Linked DNA regions of Homo sapiens: all the other regions are linked to region 1. Evidence: fine-mapped expression QTL. A gene starts in region 1. Each other region holds a variant in brackets. All regions are shown on one strand. Distances are between the middles of the regions. Region 1 holds the start of SLC9B2 (solute carrier family 9 member B2). Region 2 has its middle 13 kb from the start of LINC02428. Region 3 has its middle 21 kb from the start of CENPE. Region 4 holds the start of BDH2 (3-hydroxybutyrate dehydrogenase 2).

The links.
Region 2: its variant is fine-mapped to the expression of SLC9B2 in transverse colon (GTEx, PIP 0.91).
Region 3: its variant is fine-mapped to the expression of SLC9B2 in lung (TOPMed, PIP 0.99).
Region 4: its variant is fine-mapped to the expression of SLC9B2 in aorta (GTEx, PIP above 0.99). The same link has a PIP of 0.9 or more in atrial appendage, esophagus muscle, tibial artery and tibial nerve.

The regions. Positions count from the first base shown.
Region 1 is chr4:103,073,470-103,081,580 of GRCh38, forward strand. SLC9B2 (solute carrier family 9 member B2) reads right to left here and starts at 3,292. Exons shown (of 12, transcript NM_178833.7): 1 at 2,715-3,292. BDH2 (3-hydroxybutyrate dehydrogenase 2) reads right to left here. Exons shown (of 10, transcript NM_020139.4): 10 at 4,123-6,286. The coding sequence ends at 6,233. RefSeq lists a silencer at 2,952-3,061 and an enhancer at 3,172-3,291.
Region 2 is chr4:103,408,434-103,416,544 of GRCh38, forward strand. No RefSeq gene overlaps it. Among named protein-coding and RNA genes, the nearest start is that of LINC02428, 13 kb to the right of the region's middle. The variant A/G (reference allele first, on the strand shown) is at 3,427.
Region 3 is chr4:103,215,093-103,223,203 of GRCh38, forward strand. No RefSeq gene overlaps it. Among named protein-coding and RNA genes, the nearest start is that of CENPE, 21 kb to the left of the region's middle. The variant C/A (reference allele first, on the strand shown) is at 4,599.
Region 4 is chr4:103,095,402-103,103,500 of GRCh38, forward strand. BDH2 (3-hydroxybutyrate dehydrogenase 2) reads right to left here and starts at 4,433. Exons shown (of 10, transcript NM_020139.4): 1 at 4,382-4,433; 2 at 782-873. The coding sequence starts at 853. The variant T/C (reference allele first, on the strand shown) is at 3,864.

The DNA.
Region 1 (8,111 bases):
CAGATCAGGCTCAGAGTAGGGCTTAACACTTTCTTAGACAATTAATTACTAAAATGACTAACAGTGTTTCCCTGAATGAGAACTACCTTATCTGAAAGACTTAGGTGTGTCAAATACATGTGGCCAAGTTACCAAAGGAAAACAACCGCTATTTTATTTGGTTAATTGATTTAGTAATTTCATTGACTCATGAAGGAAAACACTATATAATGAGATAAGAATAAAAGGAAATTACCCCTACATAAGGGACCCAATACTTGCTTTCATCCTTTCTATTCTCTCTCCTCACCAAAGTGAAATATACTTACTAAAAGTTTAAAATATTATTTCTAGGCCCACTAAAATCAGAATCTACAGAGACCGAATCTACCCCAAGTGGGACAGACATGACTTATGGCCTGTCTAAATGCCAAGTGTTCAGGTATGCCAGTAGGACCCTTCTCCCGCCCTAGGGATAAGTCATTATTGGTGTAAATCAATCTCTGTAACACCATTCCTCTTTGCCACTTATTGGCTAAGGAGTGAGCATGATTCATTTCTTGCCATTGGAATTTGTAGGCAAGACTATTGGGGCATATTACATAAGATTTTCCTTCTTAATAAAGACAGAGAGAGAGGAGGAAAATCCTCTCCTCTTTTTGTCTTTAAATGACCAGGTAAAGAGGCAAGGGAAGTTGGGATTGTGGATGGGTTTCTTGGGACAATTCTAGCAGCCATCATTCACCCATGAAGAAAAGTCAAGATTAGCTGAACACAGAAAGCAACATAGAGCCCTGATATTACTGAGCTACTGAACAAACCCTGGACCCACCTACCTTCAAACATCTTCATGTATGAGCAAAGTACATCTGTATTTTTGAAGGGAGTTTTGGCTGAATATCCTGTTACTTGCAGCCAAAAGCATCCTAACCAATATAACAGGTGATTTTGTTGCAGAACCATCCCTGAGAAGCCCTGATGAACAGCAGTGATGAGGAACCTCTGTCTTACAAACTTTAGTTTCTATCTTTCTAGCTTCTTGTTACAGTGCAAAATCATCATAGACAATGAATGATCAGAACACTGCCTTTGTATTGAAATTTCTCAAAAATGTCCAGAAAATAACATTTTATAAAGTTAAAAATTAGTGCCAAGGTTTTCACTGCCATTCTTTTAGTCAACAGAAATTATTTGGATTGTAAGATTATGTATTTCCCCTCCTCTACCCTGAAGTTAAATTGTAATATTTGAATACTGAATGAAGAAAAGTTGGACTTATAAACGTTTGGTTGTTTTCCAAATTTCCACTCATGAAACAAAACAACAACAATAAAATATCACTACTATTGCTGCCTGGAGTTTCATTTCTGCTTTTTCTACTTGAAGAAATTCAAAATCTAACTCAAATGTCACCTTCTCAGTATTTCCTAACTCCAACATTGACAAACTGTCTCCCTCGTTTTCCTCTCTGATGATTCATTCATTCATTCAACAAACAAGAGCTATTAAGCTCTTGTTACGTCCCAGTCCTTGAGCTGAGGATTCAGAAGTGAACGGTCTTAAATAGTTCCTATATTCAGATCTTGTAATCTAGTTACAGGATGATAAAGGATGATAAATGATTCCTAAGCAATCACAATGAAATATGGTTAAGTTTCAACTTTAGACACATAACAACCCCATCCCTTAACAAGTTTCATTTCCTTTTTTTTCTTTTCTGAGATGGAGTCTTGCTCTGTCACCTAGGCTGGAGTGCAGTGGCACAATCTTGGCTCACTGCAACCTGTGCCTCCTGGGTTCAAGCGATTCTTCAGCCTCAGCCTCCGGAATAGCTGGAATTACGGGCGTGCACCACCATGCCCAGCTAATTTTTATATTTTTAGTAGAGATGGGGTTTTACCATGTTGGCTAGGCTGGTCTCGAACTCCTGACCTCAGGTGATATGCCCACCTCGGCCTCACAAAGCCTTAACAAGTTTCTCTGGTGTGATAGGCACAAGAGTAACAAAGATGACTAAGATGCAGTCTGCCCTTTAAGGGATGGTCAGAGACTGATATGTGTTTACCAAAATCGTTTACTCTTCTGCCTGGGTCCATAGTACATTTCCAGTCTCCCTTGCAGGTCAGTGTGGCATGTGACTGAAGTCTGGTCAATGGCATGTGGACATAAATAGTATGTGATTTCCAGTCCTCACCCATAAGAAACAATCCTCATGCAATCCTCTAGTAGCTTTTCTTTTTCTGTCCGTTGCCTGGAAACTAAGGACTCCAAGGTCTTAGGGGATAGCAAAGCCATAATATAAAAGGAGTTTGGGTTCCTGAATAATTGAGTAGAAGGCCAACAGCTGAACACGTGAATGGACTTGACATGAACGAGAAATAAGCCTGAACTATGTTTAGTTACTGAGATGTTTTACTTTATCTCTTACAGCAGCTACTGCTGTCTTAAGGTTATATTCTTCAGTCAATAGCATACGATGATTCTTAGCACCTCGAGGATGCTAACCCAGTCCACAAAGGCAACACCCCCTCTGGTTAATCTGAGAACTAAAATAAAAGCAAGCAAGAAAACCCACGCCAACACCTTACAACAGTAAACAGACACGCGCCCGTCACCGGGTGTACAAACAGAAAAGGCTGGGCCCCTCGCTCGCGTCTCCGGTCCAGCAGGCCTACAGGGTACCCGCCGCTGGCGCTGGGTTTATTTTTACCCTTAGTGTCTCTGGGGCCTCTCACCTGGCAGTCTCCGGCGAAGTCGACCAGGCTCCGTCTGAACGATTAGGAAAGGGGCTGTGGGGGAGGCGGCGGAGCCCGGTCTAGCCACCGCGCTCTGGGGTTCCCGATTCGCGCATCTTCCCAGGCTGAGCCGGGAGGCTGCGTTGACTGCAGATAAACGGTCTCAGGGCGCGGCACCGCGTGTAGTCGGCCCCGCCTTTCGCACGAACCCGCTGGGCGACACCGCGCAGGGAGGTCCGACCCGTCGGCGCCGGTACAGGCTCCGGAGTAAGCATGGGTTGGTCCGGGGCCCGCAGCGGCAGCCCCGTGTGCCCTCCGCCGGGTTTCAGGTCCGGCGGCGCGGGTGCAGAGCCGCGTGCGATGCCTGGTGCGCGTGGCTTCCCCCGGAAAGGTGGCGCCAGGCCGACCATGGGCCCACGTCCCGGGGCCTCGGAGCGGCACCGCGCGGTCTTTCAGCTGCTTATCCTCCCTGGGCGGGTCCGCAGGCTTCTGGGGCCAGGACCAGCGAGCTCCCGGGAAAGCTTCCCGGAAAGCTTACCCAGAGAGCGCGGACCCAGGCGCCGAGTCTTCCCGGAGATGACGAGACACCGCGAGAGGAGCACAGCGCAGGCTCCTCGGGACTCCGCGGCGCAGGCCGGGCAGCCCGTTACTTGTTTTATCGTTCCCGAAACCAACCTCTAAGTTGTCTATCAGTCCTCCACCTTTTAGCTGTACCTCTTAGAAGTGTCTTCTCAGCTGCGGTGGGAAGATAGGATTCTTTCTTAAGGTGACCAATTAAATGGCCGGATAAAAGACTTGTTCTGCCCCCCTTTATCGCTTAACACCTGCCCTTCTTGTTGTATTTTAGATTTTTAACCCTTCTATCAGCAGTGTGATTCTATTTCATTTAATTCTCATTTCATGTTTGTGTCTTCCTTTTCTCTGTATTTCCTCTTGTGTGTGTTAAGACGCGCGCACCCCTTACCTGTTTTTCACTCCTGTAAGCAAGTGCCAATCTTAATCACCGCTTTTCAAGCAAGGGAGATTATCCTCAAATTTCTCCACCAGTCAGAAACCATTCATTCTTGTCTCTCAGGTCCTCTTTTGTGATGAACCTATTGGATAGGTTCCATCCAATACCCTTCTTCAGATCATCTGAAATGATTATTTTCCTAAACGGAACTCTTCCTCTCCTAAAGCTTGTAAAAATTTCTAGTGACATTCAGCTTCCTCTTACCACAGGAATGACATATATTTTTCCTTTTAGTCATATGTACTTCATTAATATATCACCTGATTTGATTAACATGACTTTGGAGAACATTGAATTTTTTGGCTAGATTTTACTTCGTTTTTATTGCTGATAGTGTTTATAAAAATGTTTTATAGTTTATGGTCGGCTGTGAGAAAGACTAACTCAGATCATTTGTTAATGTTGGAGCCCATTTTGTAGAATTCGTTGTGCATTTATTTAAAATTTATTTGTTCATAGCTATACATATATTATACATGTATACCTGCTCACAGCATAAAGTATTTCATGACATACTTGTAAGAGTCAGTGTTCTATGAATTCACTAGAGAAGTTACAGCATTTTGATTATGATACACGAAAAGAAACCCAAGTCATTTAGCTTAACTCCTTAATTTCATAAACCAGAAAACTAAAATCCAAGATAGATTGGGTGACTTGGTCTAGATCACAAACCAAAGTTAGCCATAATTCGGTAGTGTAGTGCCCGGTCCAAAACCTCATAGATAATCTTATAATCAATGGACTCTTTCTGAATGCTAGTCAAAATGTCCTTTTGTGTGAATTTTAATGTACCGTCATCAACTGCATGATATTCTTCCCCATACACAAAGTGTTATCTTTTTGTTGTCCATTTCAGAATTTTCCATGTTAATATTAAAGTTCTAGGAAAAAAGGCTAAGAATCACTGCACATTTATTGAGTATCTCAGTGTGCATCATACCATTTGGTCATTTGAGGTTGCAACAAGTAAAAAACAAACATAAAACCCTTAAATTAAAATAAAAACAAAAAACTTTGCCCTGACAATGTTACAGAATTAACATCCATAAATTTACTTTTCTTGAAAAATTTATTTTCTTTAATTTCGTTTGTTTCCTGTTACATAATTTATATTTAAATTTACATTTATTTATCCAGAAACTATGTCCAAATTTTATGTCCTCTTTTCTGTTATCCTGGAGTTTGGTGAAGAAATCTGTACTTAATTTAGAAAAGAAATCCCTCTAACTGACAATATTGTTAGCTAACTATATATTTCTTAGGCCCATGTCAAATATCATTGCTTATTTTAATAAAGATTGTTTAGTTAGACTAAGAAAATAGTAAATAATAAGGGATGGCATCCGTTAAGTATAAACACTGGATTATTTTTCATAACATAACAGGTCAACAATATCGTTTTGAGGCTGAACTCCTTTACTCCTTTTACTGTAAGCTATTGAAGCCAAACTCCTTCCTACCTTTGTTCATTTATGATGGTGTAAAATTTTAAAATTAGGATCTACATACAGAACAATGCAGAATTATATAAAAATATTTGAATATTGAAAAATGAAGTGGAAATTATTATTATTATTTAGGTACAGGGTCTTGCTCTGTCACCCTGGAGTGCAGTGGCATGATTACAGCTCACTGCAGCCTCAAACTCTTGGGCTCAAGTAATCCTCCTGCCTTAGCCTCTGTTAACCATGCTGGTCCTGAACTCCTGGCCGCAAGTGATCCTCCTGCCTTGGCCTCCCAAAGTGCAGGAATTATAGGCATGAGCTACCATGCCTAGTCCTGAAATTACTATCTTCTTCCTTAACCCCCATCTCCCCCACAAAAAAACAAAAACTTCCTTTTTTCTTCATATTTACATTTTAATTGTATATGCTGCAATGGCCTATTTGTATCACCCCAGAGTCATGTGTTGACATCCTAACCTGCAATATGATACATTAGGAGGTGGGGCCTTTGGGAGGTAATCAGGTCATAAGGGTAGTGCCCTCATGAACAGGATTAGTGTCCTTATAAAAAGACACATGAGCGCTCGCTTTTTTTCTCTGCTCTTGCTATGTGAGGATACAGCAAGAAGAGGACCATCTGCAAACCAGGAAGTGGGCCCTAACCAGAAACTATATCTGCTGGCACCTTTATCTTGCACTTCCTAGCCTCCAGACTGAAAAATAAATGTTTGTTGTCTATGACACTCCATCTATGGTAATTTGTTATAGCAGCCCAAAGTGACTAAGACAGATGCTAACAAATCGAGATTTATTTTAAAAACTATTCTCCTGCTATGAGTTCAATATTTTTATTTCTTTACAATGATTTCAGAAGAGATTACAAAGAGATTAATATACTTAAAGAATCAGACTCTTGCAAACAGTGACATCATTAAAAAGAGCTTATTTTCATTAACATGTGATTAACAGGAAGGAGATGATTGGTGAGTTTTCTTCGTAACCAGGTTCACTGTGGATAGGAAGGGCCTGCCTTCCTTCCCACCATGGAGATCCTAAAATCACAAGCTCCAGCCTCCATCAATGATGACAGGGTTACCAGTTACATAAGCAGACTGCAGTGATAAACACAAGGAGACAGAACAATTAACCAGGTTTGATACAGGCTGTATTTTGAAATTTTCCTGTGACTAGGATAACTAAACAATTTACCCTTGTCCTAACAGGAAACCTCACTTAAACACTTAATTCAGGGAAATCCAAATTAACATTTGGTTGATTTAGAACTGCTGAGTGTCCTGTGATCTGGAACTAAATGGCCTCTGGCTGGTGTCTAAGCACCTGTCACTGTTAGGTATTTGGTCTCAGAATCCCCAAATTAAGGAACAGTGATGTATAGCCATTCCCCAAATTAGGATATAGGCTAAAAGCACATTTTCATTTTGAAACTCAGAACTATTCAAAACTAGCTAAGTTTTATGCCACTAATAAACTTTTGAACATAAGTGTATCAGTCATAAAATGGTCATATTAATGACCAGTTTTTTAAAAAAGACAGCATATATTTAGTTGATCAATTATAAGTGGATAATTGTAGGAGCTGAAGCACACTAAATGTGTTTTAAAAATTTACATGAATGATAATAACTATAATCCATTAAGCTATAAAAATATTCTATATTAGTTTCAGATATCCAAATCTTTATAAAACTAAGGAATTTAAAAAATAATTACTGGTTTATTCCCATAAATTTTTCATTTTCTAAATAAGGCTGAAGTGATCTTTTTGGTAGAAGTTTAAAAATCTTTTAACTTAAAATGGATAATAAAGACTCAAACAGTCTAAATTCATCTGAAGCCTGAAACAATGGAAGAGGAAGTAAGGATATCATAATGAATAGAGAAATTTTAAGAGTTCAATAGATAAAAGCTGATAATATACAGTAGGTGAACTAGGGAGTTATTAGTCACTTCACCAAAGAAATACCTCCAACTCCCCCAAGTTCTTTTAAAAGACAAGCTCTGTTACACATATGAACTCCTCTGGAAACCTCTAAAAAGCCAAAGGTACTTTTGTAGCACATTTCAAGCCACAACACTTCCAAATATCTTGTAACCTAAGCTCTGGCTAACTAAGGGTAATTTAGCTTATCAGCAGTACCCAAATCAAATGAGCTATTCTGAAGATACGGATTCAGAGAAATCACAAAGGCTCATGTGCTTCTTCATTAAACATTTGTCTATTAATTTCCCCAGCTATTAACAATTGTTGTTAATAGTTGGGAGAAGTTCTGAGAAGAAACTGCGCTGTCACGGAAACATTTCAATCCCTGTATTTGTCACATTCACCAACTATCTGGTGTGCACCAAGTTACTGGGAAGAGGAGCTATCAGTTGTTCCCTCCTCGCTCCCGCCTAGTCCCCTTTCCTTCCCTCTTCTCACACATTACAGTTCCTTGTTCCTGTAGTATTCAGAGACATAAAACAGAGGAGGACCTTCTTGTGCTCTATACCTTATAAGCATCATTTTTGCTTTCATCTTAAGCCATTTAAAAGTAAACAATAGTTATTAAGGAAAAAACTGTTAAACAGATGCAAAGTGGAAGAGATTAAATTAGGAATTTCCATACACGATGATGAACAAGTAAGAATTTTTAAAAATATTTATTTATTTTGAGACGGAGTCTCACTCTGTCACCCAGGCTGGAGTGCAGTGGCGCAATCCCGGCTCACTGCAACCTCCGCCTCCCTGGTTCAAGCGATTCTCCTGCCTCAGCCTCCCGAGTAGCTGGGACTACAGGCGCCCGCCACCACGCTCAGCTATTTTCTGTTTTTAGTAGAGACGAGGTTTCACCATGTTGGTCAGGCTGGTCTCAAACTCCTGAACTCAGGTGATCCGCCTGCCTCGACCTCCCAAAGTGCTGGGATTACAGGCATGAG
Region 2 (8,111 bases), 330 kb after region 1:
TTTCTGACTCAGTTTGTCATATATTAAGCAAGCTTGCTAAATTTTATACATCTCTATATTGGATTCTTTTGTAAGTCAGTCATGTTATCATTCATGTGTAGGTTTGATGGTCAATAAAATTAAATTGGATTGAAATTAATTTCTGATATAGGCCACATCTATAAATTTTGCCTCTCAATATAATGCAAGAGGTGTAATAGTAGCTGGACATCGGCTCATCCCTCTTTCTTCGAGCCTTACTGTTCTTTGACCCAAGACTGCACATTTAAAAGAGAGGGGAGATGAGTTTTTAACGCTGCTGTGGAGATGTATTAAAATCCCATTTCAGTTAAGGTTGCAGATTTAGCAAATAAAAATTAGTTACATTTGAAATGTTTATCTGAAATTTAAATTTAATTGGACATCTTTTATCTACAATGTTAATTTGAGTTCCTCCAACTTGAATCTCTGTGAGGTTTGCTCTTGTTCCTCTTGAATTCTCTTTTCTGTTACTGGTATTTTTTTTCAGATCAGGTCTTCAATGAGATATTCCTTTTTATTTGAGGTTTCAAGCTTCAATATCTTGAGTTCATCATCAGCCAGCATCTCCTACCCTGATTTCTTATTTACAGCTTTATTCTCTGGCTCATACTATGACTTTAAGTTTCTCATGTAATGCATTTACTGTTACATTGGACTTTGACAATCATCCACAATGTGGAAATCTAAAGCAGAAAATGGGAAGGCAGAACAGGAAAGAGTAAGGCACATTGGCAGGAATTAAGTCTAGAGCTTCTTACAAGGGTAAAAGTTTTGTTGGATAAAATGGGATCAGATATTAGGACTAGCAAATAAAGGTCAGGCAGTTAAGAAACCTGGGAACACTGGAAAAACTGAGAGGTGGATGATGCAGAAGATGAGCTGGTCATGCACAATGGCAGAGGGATTCTCCTGGAGCAGAGGTTTGGATAATCAGAGATGGATCATGATTTGTCAGGACTTTCAGGAACTGCTTTGTCCAGAAACAGCCCCTCTTAGTCTTAAAGTTACAACATCCCCTAAAAAGACAAAGTGCTCTGCTAGAATACTGCACCAACAATTTAGAGAAGAGCTTTCCATTCCCACCCACAGACATGTATTTGGCTAAATATGGCTCTTGCTAATGAAGAGCCTGAAAACATATCTGAAGAAATATCTACTGAAGTTGCATTATGATATGATATGTAGACCGTAATTTGGTTTGATACACAACCACCTGCAAGCCCATCCAAGACAAAAAGAAGCTCCAGAGAAAACTTAATGTAGCACGGCCTCACCTGTAGGAGATGCCTTAAAATGAATGCATGACCAGCACAATAGTGAGAATACAGCATTTGTATTCTCATTCTTACCACTATGTCTTTGTGTGTTTTACACACACACACATACACACATGCTCCACTTTTATCCATAAATATAAACACACACACACGCTCCACTTTTATCCATAAATATAAATCTTAAATACAAATTTAAATTTGAATTGTCCTGAATCTCCTCATTTACTGCTGACCAATTTCCGTATTAATCTAGTTTCCACTTTGGTAAATGACTTTGTCCTCAAATTTGAATTCTCATTCTGGCTTTTCTGGATAGGCATATACATCTGCTTTCTCTGATTTTAGATTCAGTTTCTTCCCCAAAGTTTCCAAATACTGGATATTCATAAATCAAATTGTATAGATAATTTAGGACTATCATCTATAACAAGAAATATCATAAAATTAGAGTGTTGTAAGTCAAATTGCCAGAGGGTCAGCTACAATCCACCACTCCATAGGAACCCTGAGAATAAGAATTCCATAGTTGTCAGTAAATAAGATTACAATAACAACAAGAGATTATTTTCAAAAATCATGAAATCACCAAAATTCTATCTGCCAACCAAACACACTGCTGGTTCAATAATCTTTGTTGATAGGTCTTTAATTTCCTTACATGAGCATTCTGCAAAATGCTTTAAGAATAACTAAGTGTTATACAATGAACTTTGGGAGTCAGCCAGTAGAAAATTAAATAGAATTTAGTGTGACTAAGTCACTGTGACGGAATTTAATGCTTTAAATTTTTGTGAATTATGAGGAAATTTCACAGGGGGAACATGATGGAATACAAGTACTCATAGCCCTGTTAACTGCAGCTAGAGCAGGTGGAAAGTGTCAAGTTGGGATCCCAGTGGTACAGAACAAATTGTGAATCATGGCTTCTTCCTGTTAAACCTTGAATCACCTTTAGGATAAAGTCCAAAATTCCTAACATGATCTTTAATGTCAGTCATAATGTGGTCCCCTGTATTTCTTTGTATCATTTTCTCTCGCCACTTACTCCGCAACCATGCTGATCTATTGATATACTTGCCATTTCCTGAATTTGAGGTATTCTTCTTTAATCTTGGTTTTCATATAATCTATTTCTCTGATAAAACACCATCCACCACTCTACTCAACACCTAGTTAACTTTCCAGATTCAGTTTCTTTGTGCTGCCTCTGTTCTTATCCCTGGATTAAGAATTATCTCACAATATGATGGTTGCTCTCTTGCTTGCATATCTTCTATATTTGTTTTTGAGTGTCTTTTGAAAGAGAGTGCCTCTTATGCTTCATTGTAAATCTAGGGCATAGGAAATTTCCCAGCTGACAGCAGTCATTTAAAATATACTTTTTGAAATAATGAGGCAAGCAAACATAGGCAGACTCAGCTGCTGCAGCTTGGAGGATGTCTAGTTGATAGAAAGACCACGGAATTCCAAGGGTACACAAAAGTAATTCAAACATAATGGCTCCAGTGGACAGCCTCTGATTTTTCTTTGTATAATCTTAAAAAAAAGCTCTTAAGCAGCACTTTATCTTATATTTTACACATGCGCGCGCGCGCGCGCACACACACACACACACACACACACACACACACACACGCACACACACCCTTCTTCTCTCTACAACCTTTTTGTCTCCTGTAAGTAGTTAGGGAGAGGAGAACACCTGACTGTGTGAAATATGTGTGGGTGGAAATACAAATTTCTAACTGTCCCTCTGTAGGTATTTAGGTTCCATTTTTCCACTCTGCTATTAACAGTTGCCTTTCATGTCTCTATTTTCCAGCTTACCAAATTTGGGTGACATATTTTTTCTGGTATGTGGTCCTCTCCCATTCTCTTTGTGCTTGTGGATTTTTAAAAAATAATTCCTTCATTATTTGTGGGAAACAATAGAAAAAATGTGAATTTATTTCACCAAGTTTAAATGGATCTTTTCTGCTTCAATATTTTACTGATTTTTACTTTGACAAACATAGCTTTGCCCTCATATTTAAGAAGTTTTGAGTGGCTGTCAATAAATTCTGCAACTGGTTGCCAGGGATGACAATATCATGTGTGGTATGCAGAAGCTAGCTTGCAAAAGCTGATG[A/G]TAATTAAATTGTTAATTTTTCTCAAGCTTTGTGAGCCAGTTGTATACACAGCCATTATTAAAATTTATATTACATAGCCTTATTATTAAACGTATTTAAAGCAAAGTTAAGATAGCCTTAAATCTCATCACTTCTTAATTATTTTACTATTTTCTATGTTTTTGAGGATATTTACATATATTACATCTATAAAGTAAAAATACCAAATAATAGTGTATTATCGTGTATTTCTGCAAAGTGTTATCACATTGTTGGCTTATAAATTGGCCATAATGAGAGTATTAATGCCACAGGAATCTGCAAATGCTAAAAATCAAGCTATTTTTTATTCAGAAATCTAGTTGTTAGCAGTATGCCATTGTTATGTATCCTCCAAAGTTAAGAAGTCAAAGCACTCCTAATCTGCATCCATCACCTTTTATTTAGATATTTCCCATAGTCTTGAGATTTCTGTCTCAATTTCCTTTATTTTCTTCTTCCTTCTATTTCATTCCCTGTTTTCCTCAGTCCTACCTTTATTCTATCTTCATGCTCTTCCTTTTCTTCCCTCCTTTCTTCAGAAGCTAACTCCATGTAATAGATTTAGCCACTCATTGGCCAAGGTATGGCTGTGTTTGAAATGCTGTTCCCTGGTGCCATAAAGAAATAGCACTTGAACATAAATTTAATTTCCTCAGCAAGGCCATTTGTATACTTTCTGCAGAAAGGGTATATGCACCAGCAGTTTTGCCATGAGAGTACACTGAACAAAGGAGACAGGCTCATTTATAACCTGATGCATCCACCCTACTGCTGTGTCCAGTTTCCATTGGCTGGAATAGGACCTCACATTCTGTATTTGTCCCGATTGGCTAGTAACTTAGAACTTTTTAAAAGAGGCAAAGGCGGAGGAGAACAAAGGAAGGAGGAAGTAACTTGTGGAATGCTGAGAAAGGTAAAAACACCTTCAAATAAGGAAGAGGACCAGGCTATGACCTAATGCTTGCTTGAACGAGTATAAGCATGCCAGGGCAAATATTTAGGCTAACTTGTGGGAGCTAAGAACATAAAGTACATTGATTTCTTTATTACGGCTAGCAGATATTTAAGAATGTTAGCACAGGTCTTTGAAAAAATTTTGCTTCTAAGAGAGGTTACTATTTATTCCTAATTAGATGAGGAGGAAAGTCTTTGAAGAGGAATCTCTACTTTACTTTTTACAGCTGGAAATGGGCAGTTTTCCTGGAACCAGAGCATCCCCAAGTGTTCCTCTACTGCTGCTTCCAACTTTTAGAACCAAGGAAGTTCACCATAACCTTTGTACACTCTGCCTTGGATGTCATGGTTTTATTCTTCAAGGTTTCTCAGTGTGTTTGTGCCAGTTTTCATATACTCTGGATTCTCACCCCTCCTCACTGGCTCATGTTGCTTGGGTCTGAACCTTCTCCCATTAAAACTCAGAAAAAAATGAATGAGCATTTCATATATTCTTAGAAAAATTCTGCTTCAGTTGCAGGACAGGATGGAAATAATGCTACATGTCTTTTAAAAGAGCTTTCCTCTGCCAAGTGGCACCTGATTAATTTACAACTTTCATTTAATAAAACAACTGGATTGTTGTTCCACATGATTTGTCCCAAAGCTTTATCTGTTGTTGATGTAATTAATTTCTTACCAGTTCTTTCCCCACTTCCCATTTCCAGACAAAAATATCTACTACAACTAACAATGACTAAAGTACCTTCCAAGTTTCAGGGTTTCTATTCCCATTAATCTCACTGATATCCTTATTACTTTGTTTATGAATTATTTAAAAGTCTATATATGTTACAGAATTGAAATTCAAGATGAGATTTGGGTGGGGACACAGCCAAACCATATCAGTCATCTTTCTTTACTCTATACATATTCCCCCCGAACACTTACTTAATAATTTATAATAAAGCAAGTACACAAATAATTCAAAAAGTGAGTTAATTTTTTTTTTTTTGTAAAATCCAAAGCAAGTAAACAGGAACCACATTTGATGTTTAAAAAAAATGCATGAGATTAAAATAACTCCTTTTCAGAAACAGAAATGGAATCTCCAAAAGTAAAAGACTGTTTCTATAGATGAAGGAACTAATATCTAGAGATAATAAATGCCTTTTGAAGGTTGTACAGCAGATCTAAGGAATGAACCCACAATTTGGGTTTGATGTTTGTTTAATTGTAATATTAATCTACTTTACTAGCACCATTAATTTATTTGCAGGATCTTAAATGTCAAGCTAAAATTAAAAATATCTTTTTTCTTTTTATATTTTGTCTTTAAAAGTATTTTTAATTTACTGCTAAAAAGAGAGAATGGCATTGATTCTTCATCTGCATAGAAAACAGCTCACTCCCTTCTAGCAGATTTATTTTGAATTATATAAACACCAAAAAAAAAATCCTCACATACGCTCTGCATTTTTATAGCTTCTTTTTAAGCAAACTCTCTCTTCTTGGAAGATCCCCTCCCTTCTTCAAGATATTTCTGCTCCTCCCACTACCTCAAACGTAACTGCTATTGTTGTCCTTGTTGCATCCGCATCACCCTGTGCCTCTATTAAAAGCACTTTACACCTCATAATATAATTTAATACATGTATGTTCCCCTAATAAGATCTAAGTTCCTCTAGGGGAGGAACATATCTTAGGCATCTTTGTAGAAACAGAATCAGCCACAGGATCTGGCACACAGTAGGAGCTCAACAAAAGAATGTTGAAGTCATGAATGTGATAGTAATAGATACTAAATTGTTCTCAATCAATAAATTTTTATTTGGGAAAATAGAGCATTTGGAAAGAATATTTCTTAGGATTTTTTTCACCTGCAGGTAACGTAAAACTGAAAAAAAAAAGGTTTAAATTTAAATTAAAACGTAGAAATGAATTTGTTCCCTTGGCTGAAAATTCCAAATGTGAGGCAGCTCTCAGGAGTAATTTGAGGGTGCGAGCCTCAAGCCTTGGCAGCTTCCACATGGTGTTGAGCCTGTGAGTGCACAGAAGTCAAGAATTGAGGTTTGGGAACCTCCGCCTAGATTTCAGAGGATTTATGGAAACACCTGGATGCTCAGGCAGAAGTTTGCTGTAGGGGTGGGGTCCTCAGGGGGAGAACCTCTGCTAGGGCAGTGCTGAAGGGAAATGTGGGGTCAGAGCCCCCACACAGAGTCTCTAGTGGGGCACTGCCTAGTGGAGCTGTGAGAAGAGGGCCACCATCCTCCAGACCCCAGAATGATAGATCCACTGACAGCTTGCACAATGCACCTGGAAAAGCTGCAGGCACTCAATGCCAGCCTGTGAAAGCAGCTGGAAGGGAGGCAGTACCCTGCAAAGCCACAGGGGTGGAGCTGCCCAAGACCATGAGAACTCACATCTTGCATCAGCGTGACCTGGGTGTGAGACATGGAGTAAAAGGAGATCATTTTGGAGCTTGAAGATTTGACTGCCCTTCTGGATTTTGGGCTTGCATGGGGTCTGTAGCCTCTTTGTTTTGGCCAATTTCTCCCATTTAGAATGGCTGTATTTACCCAATGCCTGTACACCCATTGTACCTAGGAAGTAACTAACTTGTTTTTGATTTTACAGGCTCATAGGCAGAAGGGACTTGCCTTGTGTCAGACGATATTTTGGACTGTGGACTTTTGGGTTAATGCTGCAATGAGTTAAGACTTTGGGGGGCTGTTGGGAAGGCATGATTTGTCTTGAAATGTGAGGACATGAGATTTGGGAGGGGCCAGGGGATAGAATAATATGGTTTGGCTGTGTCCCCACCCAAATCTCATCTTGAATTTCTATGTGTTGTGGGAAGGACTTGGTGGGAGGTAATTGAATCATGGGGGCAAGTCTTTCCTATGCTGTTCTGATGATAGTGAATAAGTCTTATGAGATCTTGCTGGTGGAAGGGTTTATGGGGTGCCAGTTTAGTCAGTCACCCCTGTGTAGGACACCTCTGGAACACCATAGGGGGCACCTGAGGAGAAACATCTCATTATTGCCATTGTGCCCCCAGGCCAGTGAGCATGACCTGCTCTGTGGCTTTACACAGAATGCTCTGGGCGGAAACACTCCCTTGAAGCATTGGAATGTGACCAGACATCCTATCCTAGCTCCCACCAGCTGCAGCCTGGTAAGTTAAAGATTATCATAGTGGTTAGACATATGCTTTGAGCTTAAAGGAAATTCACATAACCGCCAGTGCTATACATGTTTCCAATGACGCATGCTCCCCCACCTTCACCGTTTCACCCCGTACCATCTGCTTCTTAGATCAAAAAGATTGTACTCAATAAATTTTCAGGAAACCAGTGTTCTGGGCCTTCTGCAGCCTTCACTCTAGCAGATGGCCCCCTGGACCTGCTTTTACTCTTAACTTGTCTTTTCTCATTCCTTTGTCACTGCCGGACTTTGGGTACCCATGGCTGGGGGTTGGGACTGATCTCCCCAACAGGTCTGATGGTTTAAAAACAGAAATATCCCCGCACAAGCTCTCTCTTTGCCTGCCATCATCCATGTAAGATGTGACTTGCTTCTCCTTGCCTACCATCATGATTGTGAGGCCTTCCCAGCCATGTGGAACTGTGAGTCTAATTAAACCTCTTTCTTTTATAAATTGCTCAGTCTCCAGTACATCTTTATCAGCAGCGTGAAAACCGACTAATACAATGACTTAAGTATTAGT
Region 3 (8,111 bases), 140 kb after region 1:
CCATAAAATAGAACGAAATCCAGTCATTTGCAACAACATGAATGGAACTAGAAATCATTAAGTTATGTGAAACAAGTCAGGCAGAGAAAGACAAACATCACAAGTTCTTACTTATTTGTGGGATCTAAAAATCAAAACAATTGAACTCATGGACATAGAGAGTAGAAGGCTGGTTACCAAAGGCTGGAAAAAGTAGTAGGGGGCTGGGGAAGAGGTAGGGATGGTTAACAGGTACAAAAAATGATAGAATGAATAATACCTCTATTTGATAGTATAACAGGGTGACTATAGTCAATAATTACTTAATTGTACATTTTAAAATTACTTAAACAGTATAATTAGATTGTTTGTAACTCAAAGAATAAATGCTTGAGGGGATGGATACCCCATTCTCCTTGATGTACTTATTTTACATTGCATGCCTGTATCAGAACATCTCACTTATCCCATAAATATATACACCTACTATGTAACTACAATAATTAAAAATGTAAAAAATCTTTAGATTGGGAAAACAAACTATAATGTCTACTGATGGATGTCCTACATACTGGAAATGTAGTGAAAATGGTGATGGTGATGTAGAATGAGGAACTGGTGCTTGTGAAGCAGGTTCACTGTGCACTGCTTACCACTTCAGAATCCTGGGCTGCACTTTTACTATGTACCTGAGTCTTGTGAGATAAAAAAACTCTCTCACACACAAATTGCATAGTTTTGTTACTTATAGATGGGCAGAAAGGGACAACAGAAGCCTACGAGTTATGATGAGCCAGTCCCCGGGGGCTCAGGAAATCTGCTCAGAGCAGATGGAGTCTCCTCTGAGAGTGCCTTATTGCTCCCAGGGTAAAAAACCCAGGGTGGGCTGCTTTCCAGGGTCCCTTGTACCACAGCTGAGGGACCCTGGAAACCAGCCCACCCTCAATTTTTCACCGTGGGAACAATAAGACACGCTGGCTGAAGCGATGAAGGATATACTGTTTCTAGGGGCAACAGGGACAGAGTCTGTGCTCTTCTGGCCACCTCCTCCTTATCTCAGGATGTTGCATGTCCAGCACATTCTAGTTAATTCTGCAGAACTACAAGTAAGAAATGGGGGAGAACTGGGTTGGTTCAACACCACCCATGGAACTGTCCTGCAGTAATGTCATGTATGGAAAATTATACGGGAATATGAAAAATCAGTAGAAAGAAAGAAAAAAAGATATTATTAGCACATAGAATAAACTCTAGACAGGTCAAAATCAAATAGAAAATTAGTAAATTGGAAGATAATATTTAGAAATGGGCTCAGAATGTAGCTGAGATAAACAAAAAGTGATTTAAAAATATGAAGGATTCATTAAAAGAAATGAAGGATAGCTGCAAAGACTGCAACATACATACTTATAGACACTCTATGAAACCCTACAAGTTCCAGGAGATGCAAATAAAGGAAATAAAGAAGCAATATTCAAAGAGATCATTTCTGAGGAATTTTCAAAGTTTGAGAAAGATGTGACTTCTTAGATTGAAAGTGTACCCCAAAAAGCATGTAGGACCGTTAAAGGTAACTCCATACCTAGTCACAAATTTGTGAAACTAGAGAACATGAAGAATAAAGAGAAAAGTCTTAAAATCTTCCAGAAAGAAAAAGAGAAAAGATTACCTAAAAGGCCTGACAATGAGAATGTGAGCAGACTTCTCACTACTAATAGTATGTGCCAGAAGATATTTGTTAATTATCTTCAAATTGCTGCGGTAAAATTACTGTCGACTAGAATTTTATATCTAGCTAACCTATCACAAGAGTGAGGGTAAAATATAGACGTTCACAGACATAGAAATAAGAGAACTTAACTAAAGCATATTCCGTAAAGAGAGGAGGAACGAAATTAAAAAAAATGATAAACACAGGAAGTGGCAAAATATGTTGATGAATTTTACTAACTTAAAAAGAAGATTGAGGGAGGCTGGCCAGGATTGCCAACTAGAAGCAGCTAGTGTGCTCTGCTCTCAGAAAGAGAAATAGAAGGGGCAAGTAAATACAGCACCTTCAATTGAAACATCCAGGTACACACATTGGGACTCATCAGGAAAACAGCTAAACCCATTGGGAACAGAGAGAAGCAAGGCAGGATTACTGCCCACCTGAGAGTGACAGGGAGCCAGGGCAGCCTCCCTCTTTCAGGGAAGTGGTGAGTGAGTGAGTGACCCCAGGGACCCATGCTTCTCCCATGGATCTTTGCAACCCTTGGGTCAAGAGAGCTCCTTGTGAACCTCTCCACCAGGGACTTCAGTCTGACACACAGAGCTACGTGAAGTCTTGGCAGAGCAGCTGCTCAGGTACATATGGAACCTGGGGAGACTTAGATACCTGGGCATCCAAGCAAAAGTGGTTGCAAGTCCAGCAAATCAGAAGGTTAGACCCCTATACATACCCATAAGAAAAGGGATGAATCCAGGGGCCTGAGAAGTGACAGTTTGCAGGCCCTGCTTCTACAGCACTTGGCAGGACAAGACCCACTGGCTTGGATCCTATTTCTCTTCACTGGCCAGAATCTATTGACTGAGGTCTGCAACCACCCCCACCAGTGTTTTCCAGGAGACATCAGTTCCAAACCTCCCTGGAATGGAGCTTCCAGAGGGAGGGGCAGGCCACAATCTTTGCTGTTTTGCAGCCTTAGCCATTGTTGCCTTCAGGCTTTGGAGAGCTCAAAGTGACTGGGGGCTGAAGCAGACCCCTAGTACAGCACAGCTGCCCTATGAAAAAGTGGCCAGGCTGCTTTTATGCAGTAGGTCCCTGATCCTGTTCTTCCTCACTGGGTGGGACCTCCTGACCAGGGTCTCCTGCCATCTCTGCCAGTGTGTTTGGGCTGGAAACCCATCCATACCTCCCTGGGATGGAGCTTCCAGAGAAAGGGGCAGGCTGACATCTTTGCTGCTTTGCAGACTTCACTGTTGATACCTTCAGGTAATAATAGAAAATCCAAGGTGACTAGGGACTGGAGCGGAACCCCAGCATACTGCAGCAGCCATATGGGAAAATGGCCAGACTGTTTTCCGTACATGTCCTGGTGCTTACTTCTCTTCACTGGGCAGAGCTGCTTGACCTGAGACACCACCACAGCCACCCTGCCATTGCCTGACCACTTCAATCAGAGGCAGCCCAGCATTTCTGTAAGGAGAAAATCCTAAAGTCAACCCACAGCCCCTCTGCCACTGCAGTTGCAGTGGTACTGCCCTAATAGCCTACAGGCTGGGGAAAGAATAAAGGCCTAGTCACTCACTCCCTGGTACCTCCAGCACACCACAGCCACCATATGGAGAGGAGTCCAGCCCCTCTGCCCTAGGAATCTTCCCCCTACACTCTTCACCAGTCAGGGCCTCCACCTCATAACTGCAGAAACATCCCACCCATGGTGGAGTATACCCACTAGTAGTGGCTTGGAGTTTTCTTGTGAAGAGGCTTCCAGAGGCATCCCACAGCCATTCTGCCACTGCCAAAGCAGCAGTTCTATCCCTGCTGCCCTTGGTCTGGGGAAGAGACAAAGAGCCTGAGGACTATACCTCAGGTTACAGAACACCACATCCACCATATGGGGAGACCAGTATCTCCTCCCAGTGAGCCCTTGACCCCCTACTCCCCAACAACAGAGTTCTAAGCTCATACCACTAGTGCTGCTGTCCCACCCCACTGGCTGAACACTCCCAGTAACAGCAGCTCTGCATTTCTTGGAGGTGGGGCCCTCAGAGGCAACCCAAAGTCCCCCTGCCATGGCCTCTGCAGTGGTACTACCCCTTCTACCCTTGGACTAACAAAGGAGCAAAAGCCCTAAGTACCTTATCCATACTTCAACAAGCAGCAGTTGACCCAAGGAGAGGAGGCCAGTTCATCTTGCATGAGTCCCACCCACCCCACTGCTCATCACTAAGCAGGGAACCCCCAGCTTGGGTCCACAGCACAGACCCCTAACTTGGGCTGATTACACTGAGAGATAGCTGACCTGTATCTCTCTAGAGCAAAGCCCCCAGGAGACAAGTAAAAGACCCTCATCACAACCACTGTGAAGGTCCTGTCCTCTGCTGCCTCCAAGTTGGGGAGGAAACATTAACCTTGAGATTACCCCAGAACTGTGTTGGGCAGCCTGGGAATGCCAAGCTGTGATCTACAGCCAGCACTGAAGTGGGAGAGGAGCTCACACTTTCAGAGCATAGAGAGGCAGCATGGCTACAGCTGTGAGGAAATATAGGAGAGCCACAAGACTGAGCAAGAGACTCTTACTGACCATTATGCCTAAGTGCCACCCACTGGATCACATCCCAAAACTTCAACACCTAAAGTATCTCACCAACTTTGTGAAACCAAAGACAAGAAGCTACAAATAATTACCCTGCACAAAGCCTTGGTCCTGTGAAAACATCCAGAAAAGAAGTCAAGAAGTCTATTGATTTTACTCAATCTTCACTGCAGTTAAAGGAACACCCACATGCAGAGATGAGAAGGAACCAACACAAGAACTCTGGTAACTCAAAAGGCCAGTGTCTTATGTCCTCCAAATGACTGCACTAGTTCTCAAAGAAGGGTTCTTAACCAACTCATTGGCTGAAATGGCAGA[C/A]ATAGATGGATAGGAATGAAGATCATTGAAATTCAGGAGAACAGCAAAAGCCAATCCAAGGAAACTAAGAATCACCATAAAATGATACCTGTGCTGACAGATGAAATAGCCAGTATAAGAAAGTATCTAACTGGTCTGATAGAGCTGAAAGAGACACTACAATAATTTCATAATGCAATCACAAGTATTAACAGCAGAATAGATGAAGCTGAGAACAGGATCCTGGAACTTGAAGACTAGCTCTCTGAAGTAAGATAGTGAGATGAAAATAAACAAGAATGAAGAGGAATGAACAAAAACTTTCAGAAATGTGGGATTATATAAAGAGGCCAAATCTACAAATCACTGGTATCCTTGACAGGGATGATGAGACAGCAAACAACTTGGAAAATATATTTCAGGATATCATCCATGTAAACTTCCCCAACCTCACTAAAGGGGCCAAAAATAAAATTCAGGAAACACAGAGAACCCCTGCAGGATTCTACACCAGAAGGTCATCCCCAAGACACATAATCATCAGATTTTTCAAAGTTGAAGTGAAAGAATGTTAAAGGCAGCTACAGAGAAAGGGCAGTTCACCTACAAAGGAAACCACATCAGACTAACAGTTGACCTCTCAGTGGAAACCTTACAAGACAGAAGAGATTGGGGGCCTATATTCAACATTCTTAAAGAAAAAAATGTTCAACCAAGAATGTCATATTCAGCCAAACTAAGCTTTCTCGGCGAAGGAGAAATAAGATCCTTTTCAGATGAGCAAGTGCTGAGGGAGTTCATTACCATAGAGTTTTGTATTGTTACTAGCCAATACAAAAACACACTTAAGTACACAGACCAGTGACACTATAAAGCAACCACACAAACAAACCAGCATAATAACCAGCTAACAACACAATTACAATATCAAATCTATACATATTAATACTAACCTTGAATGTAAATGGGCTAAATGCCCCATTTAAAAGGCAAAAAATAGCAATGTGGATAAAAAAGCGAGACCTGATAGTATGCTATCTTCAAGAGATCCATCTCACATGCAGTTACACCCATAGGCTCAAAATAAAGGGATGAAGGAAAATCTACTGAGCAAATGGAAGTCTGAAAAAAGCAGGGGCTGCAATCCTGATTTTAGACAAAACAGACTTTAAACCATTAAAGATAAACATTGACAAAGAAGGGCATTATATTAATATAATGGTAAAGAGTTAAGTTCAACAAGAATACCTAACTATCCTAAAAATATATCCTGTGTTCCCAACACAGGAGCACCAAGATTCATACAGCAAGTTCTTAGAGACCTCCAAAAAGACATAGTCTTGCACACAATAAAAGCGGAAGACTTCAGCACTCCACTGACAGTATTAGACCAATCATTGAGGCAGAAATTTAACGAAGATTTTCAAGAACTAAACTCAGCACTGGATCAATGGACCTGATAGACACCTACAGAACTCTCCACCCCAAAACAACAGAATATACCTTCTTATTGCTACATGGCACATACACTAAAATCAACTACATAAACAGACATAAAAGAATTCTCAGCAAATACAAATGGACTGAAATCATAACAACCACTCAGTTGGACTGCAGTACATTAAGATTAGAAATCCAGAGTAAGAAAATTACTCAAAACCACAAAATTACATGGAAATTGAATAACCTGCTCCTGAATGACTTTTGGGTTAATCATGAAATTAAAACAGAAATCAAAAAGTTATTTGAAACTAATAAGACCCACAATACAACATACCAGAATCTCTAGGACACAGCTAAGGTAATGTTAAGAGGGAAATTTATTGCACTAAATGCCCACAACAGAAAGTAAGAAAGATAGCAAATTAACAACCTAACATCACATTGAAAAGAACTAGCAAAGCAAGAGCAAACCAACTACAAAGCTAGCAGAAGGCAAGAAATAACCAAAATTGGAGCTGAAATAACCAATTGAAGGCAAGAAATAACCAAAATTGGAAACTGAGCAGAAAACCATTCAAAAGATCAACAAATCCAGGAGTTGGTTTTTTGGAAAAAAGAAAAAAGATAAATAGGCCACTATTTATCTTATTATTGTAATAAGACTAATAAAGAAGAAAAGAGAGAGGATCCAGATAAACACAATTGGAAATGACAAAGGGAATATTAACACTGACTCCACATAAATACAAATGACCATCAGAGACTGCTACAAACACGTTTATGCACACAAACTAGAAAACCCAGAGGAGAAGGATAAATTCCTGGGCACATACACTCTCTCAAGACTGAACTAGAAGAAATTAAAACCCTGAACAGACCAATGATGATATTCAAATTGAATCAGTAATAAATAGGCTACCAACCATAAAAAACCCAGGACCAGATGAATTCACAGCCAAATTCTACCAGATGTACAAAGAAGAGCTGGTACCGTTCCTACTGAAATTATTCCAAAAAATTGAGGGGAGGGACTCCTCAATTCATTCTATGAGGCCAGCATCATCCTGATACCAAAACCTGTCAAAGACACAACAAAAAATAAAACTTCAGACCAATATCCTTGACAAATATTGTTTGTCAAAAAAATACTGGCAAATCAAATGCAGAAGCACATCAAAAAGCTAATTCACCATGTCCAAGTAGGCTCTATCCCTGGGATGCAATGTTGGTTCAACATATGCAAATCACCAAACGTGGTTCATCACATAAACAGAACTAAAGACAAAAATCAAATGATTATCTCAATAGATGCAGAAAAGGCTTTCTATAAAATTCAATATCTCTTCATGTTAAAAACCCTCAATAAATTAGGCAGTGGAGGAACAGACCTCAACATAATAAAAGCCATTTATGACAAACCCACAGCCAAAATCATAGTGAATGAGCAAAAGCTGGAAGCATTCCCTTTGAAAACCTGCACTAGACAAGGATGCTCTCTTACTTTTCCTATTTAACATAGTATTGGAAGTCCTGGCCAGAACAATCAGCAAGAGAAAGAAATAAAGGACATCCATATAGGAAGAGAGGAAGTCAAATTACCATTGTTTGCAGACTACATGATTTTATACCTAGAAAACCCAATAGTCTTGGCCCAAAAGCTTATTAAGATAATAAACAACTTCAGCAAAGTTTCAGGATACAAAATCAATGTACCAAAATCACTAACAGTCCTATACATCAGCAGCAGCCAAGTGAAGAGCCAAGTCAGGAACACAATCCCATTCACAATAGCCACAAAAGGAATAAATAACCTGGGAATACAGCTATCCCGAAAGGTGAAAGATGTCTGCAATGAGAAGTACAAAACAATTCTGAAAGAAATCAGAGATGACACAAACAAATGAAAAAACATTCCATGTTCATAAATCAGAAGAATCAGTATAATTAAAATGACCATACCACCCAATTTACAGATTCAATGTTAATTGTACCAAACTTTTAAACACATTCTTCATAGAACTAGAAAAAATTATTTTAAAATTCATATGGAACCAAAAAGGAGCCCAAATAGCCAAGACAATCCTAAGCAAA
Region 4 (8,099 bases), 22 kb after region 1:
TAGCTAGAATTTTAAACTATCTAGTCTTACCCCTTCTCCATTGTTATTATTTTTATCATTAATTAGAACAATGTGACATACATTGTGCTTGTCATCTGACTTAGTCCCTTTAAGTAATATCAAACAAAATAACGTTCTTAAAAAAATGACAGCTGTTTTCAATACTCTCAAAATACTGCTCTTCTGTAATGAGACTATATATCATTTCTGAGTTTGAGTTACTAAACTCCAAATAATAAGAGAAAAATTGGTTGTTTCAACACTTTTCCTACTAAGAGTATGCTAGTGCTTTCATAAATGTCAAACCATACCCTGCCATTATACTTAAGGTACTGTTATACTTAAGGTGCCGATATTAGCTTAAGTGGGGTACATAATGTAACAGAAATTGATATAAATCAGGAGAACAAGGTAACCTGTCTTATAACTCTGGAGTCATATATCTAAACTGACACAATTTCAGAAAGCTGTGTAACCCTGTTTGCCCTCTGTAGCGAATATATCATGATGCAGAGAAACTGAAGTAGAGAAGTTTCTCAGAGTCAATGGTTATCAGTGATGTCATGTACTAAATATGAGGTATTCATTCCTTCATCTGCCTGGGGTCAGGAGTAGGGACCTATTTATTTATTTGTTTATTTTTATAACTTAAGACAACAGAAGCACAAAAGTAAAAAAATAAAAAAGCAGAGCAGAAGTAAACAACCATGGCATCAGTCCACATAATTCAATATGTCAAGAGTTAGTAGGCAAACAACAAAGATAGTAACTTATAACTTACTAAGGCAGCTGCTTGGCCAATCCCCTGAGCAGCGGCCGTCAGGATGATGACTTTCCCATCAAGTCGACCCATAATGGAACCTGTGGTTTAATCTAAAGACATGTGTGTTTAATGGGTTATACTGTAGAACATGATCTTGAGCAGGCAGTAACATCTAGAATGAATAGTTCAGTGTGCTCTTTTAAGAATAATTTAGTGAGCTCCTTCAGGAACTTGAAGACAGCACCTCTGTGCAAGTAGTCCCATCATCTGAATTCTCCTAGAATGCTTACTCTGCATACCTAGCTTTGTATATCAAACACATTTACCATAACCCACTGAAGTAATGACTGGTGACAGACATTGGCCATTTTTTTTTTTTTTTTTTTTTTTTATGAGATGGAGTTTCACTCTTGTCACCCAGGCTGGAGTGTAATGGAGTGATCTCGGCTCACTGCAACCTCCGCCTTTTAGGTTCAAGCAATTCTCCTGCCGCAGCCTCCTGAGTAGCTGGGATTACAGGTGCCTGCCACCACGCCCAGCCAATTTCTGTATTTTTTGTAGAGACGGGCTTTCACCATGTTGGCCAGACTGGTCTCAAACTCCTGACCTCAGGCAATCCACCTGCCTCAGCCTTCCAAAGTGCTGAGATTACAGGCCTGAGCCACTGTGCCCAGCCCAGATATTGCACTTTAACCTACCTTATCCTTCCTTCAGTACCTGGAGAGGACAGCCTCTGGTGCTGAGTTTCCTCACTACCACCATCACTCTCTCCATGACCCCTGCACACATTGCTATGACATTATTTGTGTCCTTACTACTCAGGGCTGCTTCTTGATTTCTCTTCCATAAACTTTTGTTGAGGTTTGCACTATCAATTGCTTATGATTTTTTTTCTCTTGAAAAGATTTCATAGTTGGTCTCAGATATTCATCGAAAAAAAAAAGGATGGAAAAATCAAATCACATCCAATACTCCCATTTTACAGATGAGGAAACTGCTGAAACATGCCCAATGTCATAGAGCCAGTCAATGGGAAAGCCAGAACTAAACTTAGACTTCCAGACTCTTGCTATGTGAACAGTCCAGCCCACAATGCTGCCGATCCTCTTATAAAGTTTAAGCATGCAGTAGTAACACATTAACAGGCATAATCAGTAATTTCTAAATGATTGAGAAACACTGACACCGGGGCTCATGTGCATGAGATATTTCACCAGTGCTTGGATTATAGATCACAAAGTGAGAGAAAGAGCTAGTAGTGAGGCTGGGGGTGGAGAAGAGCCAAATGACCATCAAATGAGGCTGTCTTCAAGGACACAGGCTCCAAGTCTTGCTGGGCTCTGTCATTAATGTGTGCCTCTGACCTCATACGAACTCACAAAGTGGCTGCTTTGTCCAAGGCATCATATCCACATTTCAGGCAAAAAGAAAGGGAGGAGCAAAAGCCAAAAGGCTTTCAGAGAGGTCTCACCTTTCTATTTAAGAAGGAAACCTTCTCAGAAATTCCCACCTGCAGTTCATTCACCAGATCTATGCTACTTGGCCACTCCTAGCTGCAAAGAGGTTGGAAGTTGAGACTTTTGTTTCCAGCTTTGATAAAGTGAAGAATAGGAGAAAGTGAGTTGGATGGTGTTGATGAACCAACTTACAGTACATGCAAACTAGCCTACACAATCACTCTGTTCCATTATCTGCCTGATTTTGTACAGGTTGATAGCCTTGCCTAAAGGGCTTATATTACCTAGTCCTTTCTCTTTGAACTTATTTCAGTTCTCTCTTTAGCCAAACTTTTTTTTTTTTATACCCAATATGCTCTTCCATTTCAAACCTCCACACTTGGTCCAAGGTCCACATGGTGAAGGGCAAGTTACTCCTATAGGCAACAGCCACTGAAGGATTTATGGAAAGGGTGTGAAATGATCAGATTCGTATTTTGGAAGGACTGCTGTGGAGAACATACCTGGGCAGGAGCATGGGGTGCCATTAGGAGGCTGCTAGGGTTATCTAGTGGGGGCGCTGGTGAAATAGCAGGGCTGGAGAAAATAGCAGGGATGGAGAGATAGGTGGATTGGAGAAGTGTTTCAGAGATGAGATAGGTAGGACCTGATCACCAACGTGGCTAATTTCAAAGAAATGTTATTTGCCCAGTGTTTTGCAGCTATGAATTCAAACCTAGGCCTTCTTGTTGCAGGTCCAAGGGAAGATCTCATGGCATTGTCTCATGGTACTCAAAGCCCTGCGGGCCTCTCTAAATCCCCACTGTGGCACCAGGAGCCTGTGCCTCGCAGACCGCTGACCCCAGGAAGTAATGGACAATGAGGCGCAGCTGCTGCTGCCTCTCTGGGTTTGTGCTGAGGCCACCTTCTCGGGGCCGTTACAAGCCAGTGCCTGAGCATGCATGCTTACTAAGGCAGACTCATTTCTGGGAGACATAGACCTCCTCCCCAACGGATGACTGGCTAGAGAAGCTCCTTATTACCTTGCTGAAGTTCTCTTAGACTGCACAGCTGTCTGGGATGCTTCCACTCAACCTGGTTTCCTTCTTTTCCTCCCTCGCGGGTGGACTTGCATCGAGGTCTGATGGCTCTCACAGCCTTACCTAGTTCTCTCCTCATTCTCTCTCACAACAGCATTTCCCCTAATAAAATCCATGCATATTTAATTCTATCTTGGAGTCTGCTTCTTGGAGGAGCAGACTAACACAATTATGTAAGAACTGGCTCCAGGGATCAGCTTATAATCACTGACTTCCTCTGAGTTTGTCCACATTTTTTAGGCGATGGGGAAGCTTGGCTTTAACAGTGCCTGACCTACTTTGATGCAATGAATTTTTGCTTTTTTACTTCTTACACAAAAGATAAACATGGAATGTTTATCATTTCAACATGGAATGACAGTTTCTAAAGTATAACTTTAGAAAGATATACTTTATCCTCCTTGAATCCTAAGCATGGTGCACAAAAGCTATTTTACAACACTGTCATTAGTGATATTGGGTGTATGGCCCTGTAAAGCCTCCAGTCAAAGGTTTTGCTAGGAATCTTTGCCAACCGAAGAAGCACTTCCAGAACAAATGCCGAAGCACAGAGCAGCCTTTCTA[T/C]GCACTCTGAAAACCTCCTCTTAGCTGGCCTTCCTGTCTTTCTGGGACCAGATTTTGGGGTCAAAGCCTTAACATTTGATAAACTGTAATCTCAAACTAAAACAGATTTCTTTGAGAAAATGAGAGCAAACACGGCCTGAAATGGTAAAACAAGGCACCTCTCAATATATCCAATGTGAAAACCATACATGTTGGCTTCCTTAGTCCAAAAGTTAGAATCAAAATGTTGATTTTTGATTAGCAGAGACACAAACAGCATATTCAGGAAGCCATTGTTTTCAAGAGCCAGGAAGAAAACTCTTCACTTAGGATACCGTAAGAATCCTTTTTTCTTGGGCTACTTTATAAAACATACATACCACAGAGTTTCAGGCTCTTTAAAAACCCATCTTTACACTGATCTAACTGCTCAGATTAATTTTGAAACAGGCAACGTGCAGAAAAAAACAACATCTAAAAATTAAACCTCCCCTCTTTCCGTTCTAAAGTTTCATTTCAAAAGTATTAGGAAATCTTACTTTAAGCAGCGAGCTGATGGCGTTCTCCAGAACTCGGTTTGAGCAACAAACTTGAGACAACCTTTGTCTGGAAGCAAGTCAAGCGCTTAATAATGCATGCTGGGATTTGTAGTTTCCCTGCTTTCAGAGTTTAGTGGCTCCATCCATACACTTTATAAATGTATGTGCTGCCATCTAGTGGAATTCAGGTAGAACTATGAATTCCAAGTGGAAGGTGAAAAGTGGAAAAGCACCTTAGAGCTTACTTAGGATGCGGAAATCATTTCCTTCACTTCAGTCTCTCCACTTCTCTGTTTTGTTTATGCCTACTATATGCGGTGCCAGGGTAGACGAGATTGGCTGAGCTGGAAACTGCGTGTGGAAGATAGCAGAGCAACAAAATAGAGGGAACCCAGGTCACTGAAAATTCTGGAGCCTTCCTGTCACTTGGCCTGGATTGTTTTAAGGGAGAGAAATAAAAAAAAAAATCCTTTTTGTTTGAGATACAGTTGTGATTTTTATTTTTTCATGCTCAGAATATTCTAACACTAATGCACATTTAGTGGCAGAATGCCAGGAGCCTTTTACTACACTGGGAATGGGGTTGGGGAGAACGTGAAACTTGGATGACAGGGTGGAGGCTTAAAAGGGAACATGTTAACAGCGAAAAACCCCAGTTTGGCTGAAGAGAACAGAGATATAAGGTCAAAAAGAAAGGACTAGATCTCATGAGCCCTCTAGGTTAGGATAGCAACATGTGCTTTATCTGTAGTGCCAGTGAGCAGAGTGATTGTGTAGGCTACTTGTACATGTACTGTATAAATTGGTTTCCTCAGCACCCATCCAACTCACTTTCCCCTTTTTTCACTTGTCAAAGCTGGAAAACAAAAGTCTCTACTTCATAGCCTTGTTTGCTGCTAGGGGTGGCCAAGCAGCATAGATGTTGCCAATGAAATGCAGGTGGGAATTTCTGAGGAGGGCCTCCTTCTTAAATAGAAAAGTAAGCCCTTCTGAAAGGCTTTTAGCTTTTGCTCCTCCCTTTCTTTTTGCCTGGAATGAAGATAGGATGCCGTGGGACAGAGCAGCCATTTAGTGAGTTCATCTGAGGCCAGAGGCACACATTAACGACAGGGACCAGCAAGAGAAGGAGCCTGCGGCCCTGATGACAGCCTCAAGGCAACAACTCCTCTGGACTTCTTATGTGAGGACAATAAACTTTAGTGTTTTTCACGTTTTTTGTTACATGGAGCTAAGTGATTTCTAACAGTCACAGGGGATAAGAACAAAGACTGTGGCGTCAGTAAGACTAGAGCAAGTCCCATATCTCTCTCTCACTAGCTAAGTGAGTAAATCACTTAAATCTCTGAACCTCTTATGTTTCTCATCTGTAAAATGAAGGTAAAATAGCACCTACCTCAGGGATGTGGTGAGGAGGAACGACTAAGCCTGTGAATCCATCAGCACAATGTTTGCCACACAGGTGCTTAATACATGTTAGTGATTCTTATGATGAAGACATTGTTGGAGAAATTTAATTATAATGGATGGTAAAAGTTGCGCTTTTTAATGTTCTTTTAAAAACTGGACTTAGTTTCTGCATGTGTCTATATGAGGTCTATGGTAAAATTGTCCCTCCTTGTTCATTGTTTCAGCAACTTCTAATGCTGGCTCTAACAATCTGTAATCACATCTAGCTTTGTTCCTGCTTTACTAATAATGCCCTTTGACTTTTGAGGCTTTTGGAACAGACTTTATGAGAGTTCTCTAATCAAAGCCAACTCCAATGCTTCTTGATGTAGCTTTCTTCAGCATCCCTCTGTAATCTTCAGCAACAATGCTTACTTGATAACAGCCTAAGTCACATGGTATTGCAAATACTTGCTTACCCATTAGTATTCTCAGCAGACTAAATTTCTTCAAGGGTGGGGACTATGTTTTACACCTTTACATTGTGATTAGCTCGTATTAAAAGAGTATTAGTTACTTGTTTTCTTATCTACAATATGAGTTCCACATTGGTAGTGCCTTTCAGTGCCTAAAACAGTAATTGGCAGATAGTAGATGCTCATTAAATATTTGCTGAGTGAATGGCAGTTTCTTAATAAGTTTCCTGAATATAATTCTGCCAGGCTCTCAAGACAATGTTTGTGATAATTAATTTTAGGTGTCAACTTGACTGGATTTACGGATCCCCAGAGAGCTGGTAAGCATTATTTCTGGGACATCTCTGAGTGTTTCTGGAAGAGATCGGCATTGGAATCAGTGAACTGGGTAAGGATCTACTTCACCCAATGTGGGCAGGCACTATCCAATTGGCTGAGGGCCCAGATAAAACAAAAAGGCAGAGAAAAGGTGAATTCTCTCTCTTCCGGAACTGGGACATCCATCTTCTCCTGCCCTTGGATACCTGAACTCCGACCAGATTCTCAGGCCTTCAGACTTGGACTGAGCCACGCTCCTAGTTTCCCTGGCTCTCCAGCTTGCAGACAGCCTATGGTGGGACTTCTCAGCCTCCCTAATTGTGTAAACCAATTCCCCTAATAAACATCCTCTCTCTCTCTCTCTGCATATATATATATATATATTTTTTTTTTTTTCCTCAAGCTTCAGTGGGGTTACATCCCAATAAGCCCATTGTAAATTGAAAACATTGTCAGTTGAAAATGTATTTAATATACCTAATTCACTGAACATAGAGCTTAGCCGAGCCTACTTAAATGTGCTCAGAACACTTGTTAGCCTACAGTTGGATAAAATCATTTAATACAAAGCCTGTTTTATAACAAGGTGTTGACTGACTCATGGGATTTATTGAACAGAGTACACTGAACAGTGTCAGTTGTTTACTCGTGATCCCGTGGCTGACTGAGAGCTGTGTCTTGCCGCCACTGCCCATGATCACAGTAGAGTATTGCTATCTTATGAAGAGATCAGAATTCAAAGTAAAGTTTTCACTGAATGCGTATCGCTCTCACACCATCCCTAAAGTTGAAAAATCTCAAGTTGAACCATGACAAGTTGGTGACCATCTGTGTATATTCTATTGGTTCTGTCTCTCTGGAAAATCCTAAGACAGATTTTGGTAACAGGAGAGGTTCTAGAGGAACAAAATTTTAAGGATGAGTTTCCTGAGTTGGTTTTGGGGTTCCTGGAATTGGCTCTTAGTCTGATTAGATTTGAAAATGCTAAAGGCTCTACTCTTTGAGATGGGGTCACACTCTTGAACAGGTTGGAGTGCAGTGGCACCATCATAGCTGACTGTAGCCTTGAATACCTGGGCTCAGGCCATCCTCCTGCCTCAGCCCTCCAAATTGTTTTTTTTTGGTAGAGATGAGGTCTCAGTATGTAGCCTAGGCTGGTCTCAAACTCCTGGTCTCAAGTGCTCCTCCTGCCTCAGTTTCCCAAAGTGTTGAGATTACAGGGATGAGTCACTGCGCCCAGCCTGGCTCTCCTTTTAATAGTACAGAGAGCACTGATTGTCCAAGAAATGAACTGTTCATAGAGGTATGCAAAATGTCTGCATTGGATACTCCTAATCAACCACTTCTTAGAGGTGAGGAACTTAAGTGACTCTATATATAATACTTTTTTTTTTTTTTCCGAGACAGAGTCTTGCTCTGTCGCCCAGGCTGGAGTGCAGTGGCATGATCTCGGCTCACTGCAACCTCTGCCTCCTGGGTTCAAGCGATTCTTCTGCCTCAGCCTCTCGAATAGCTGGGATTACAGGCACACACCACCA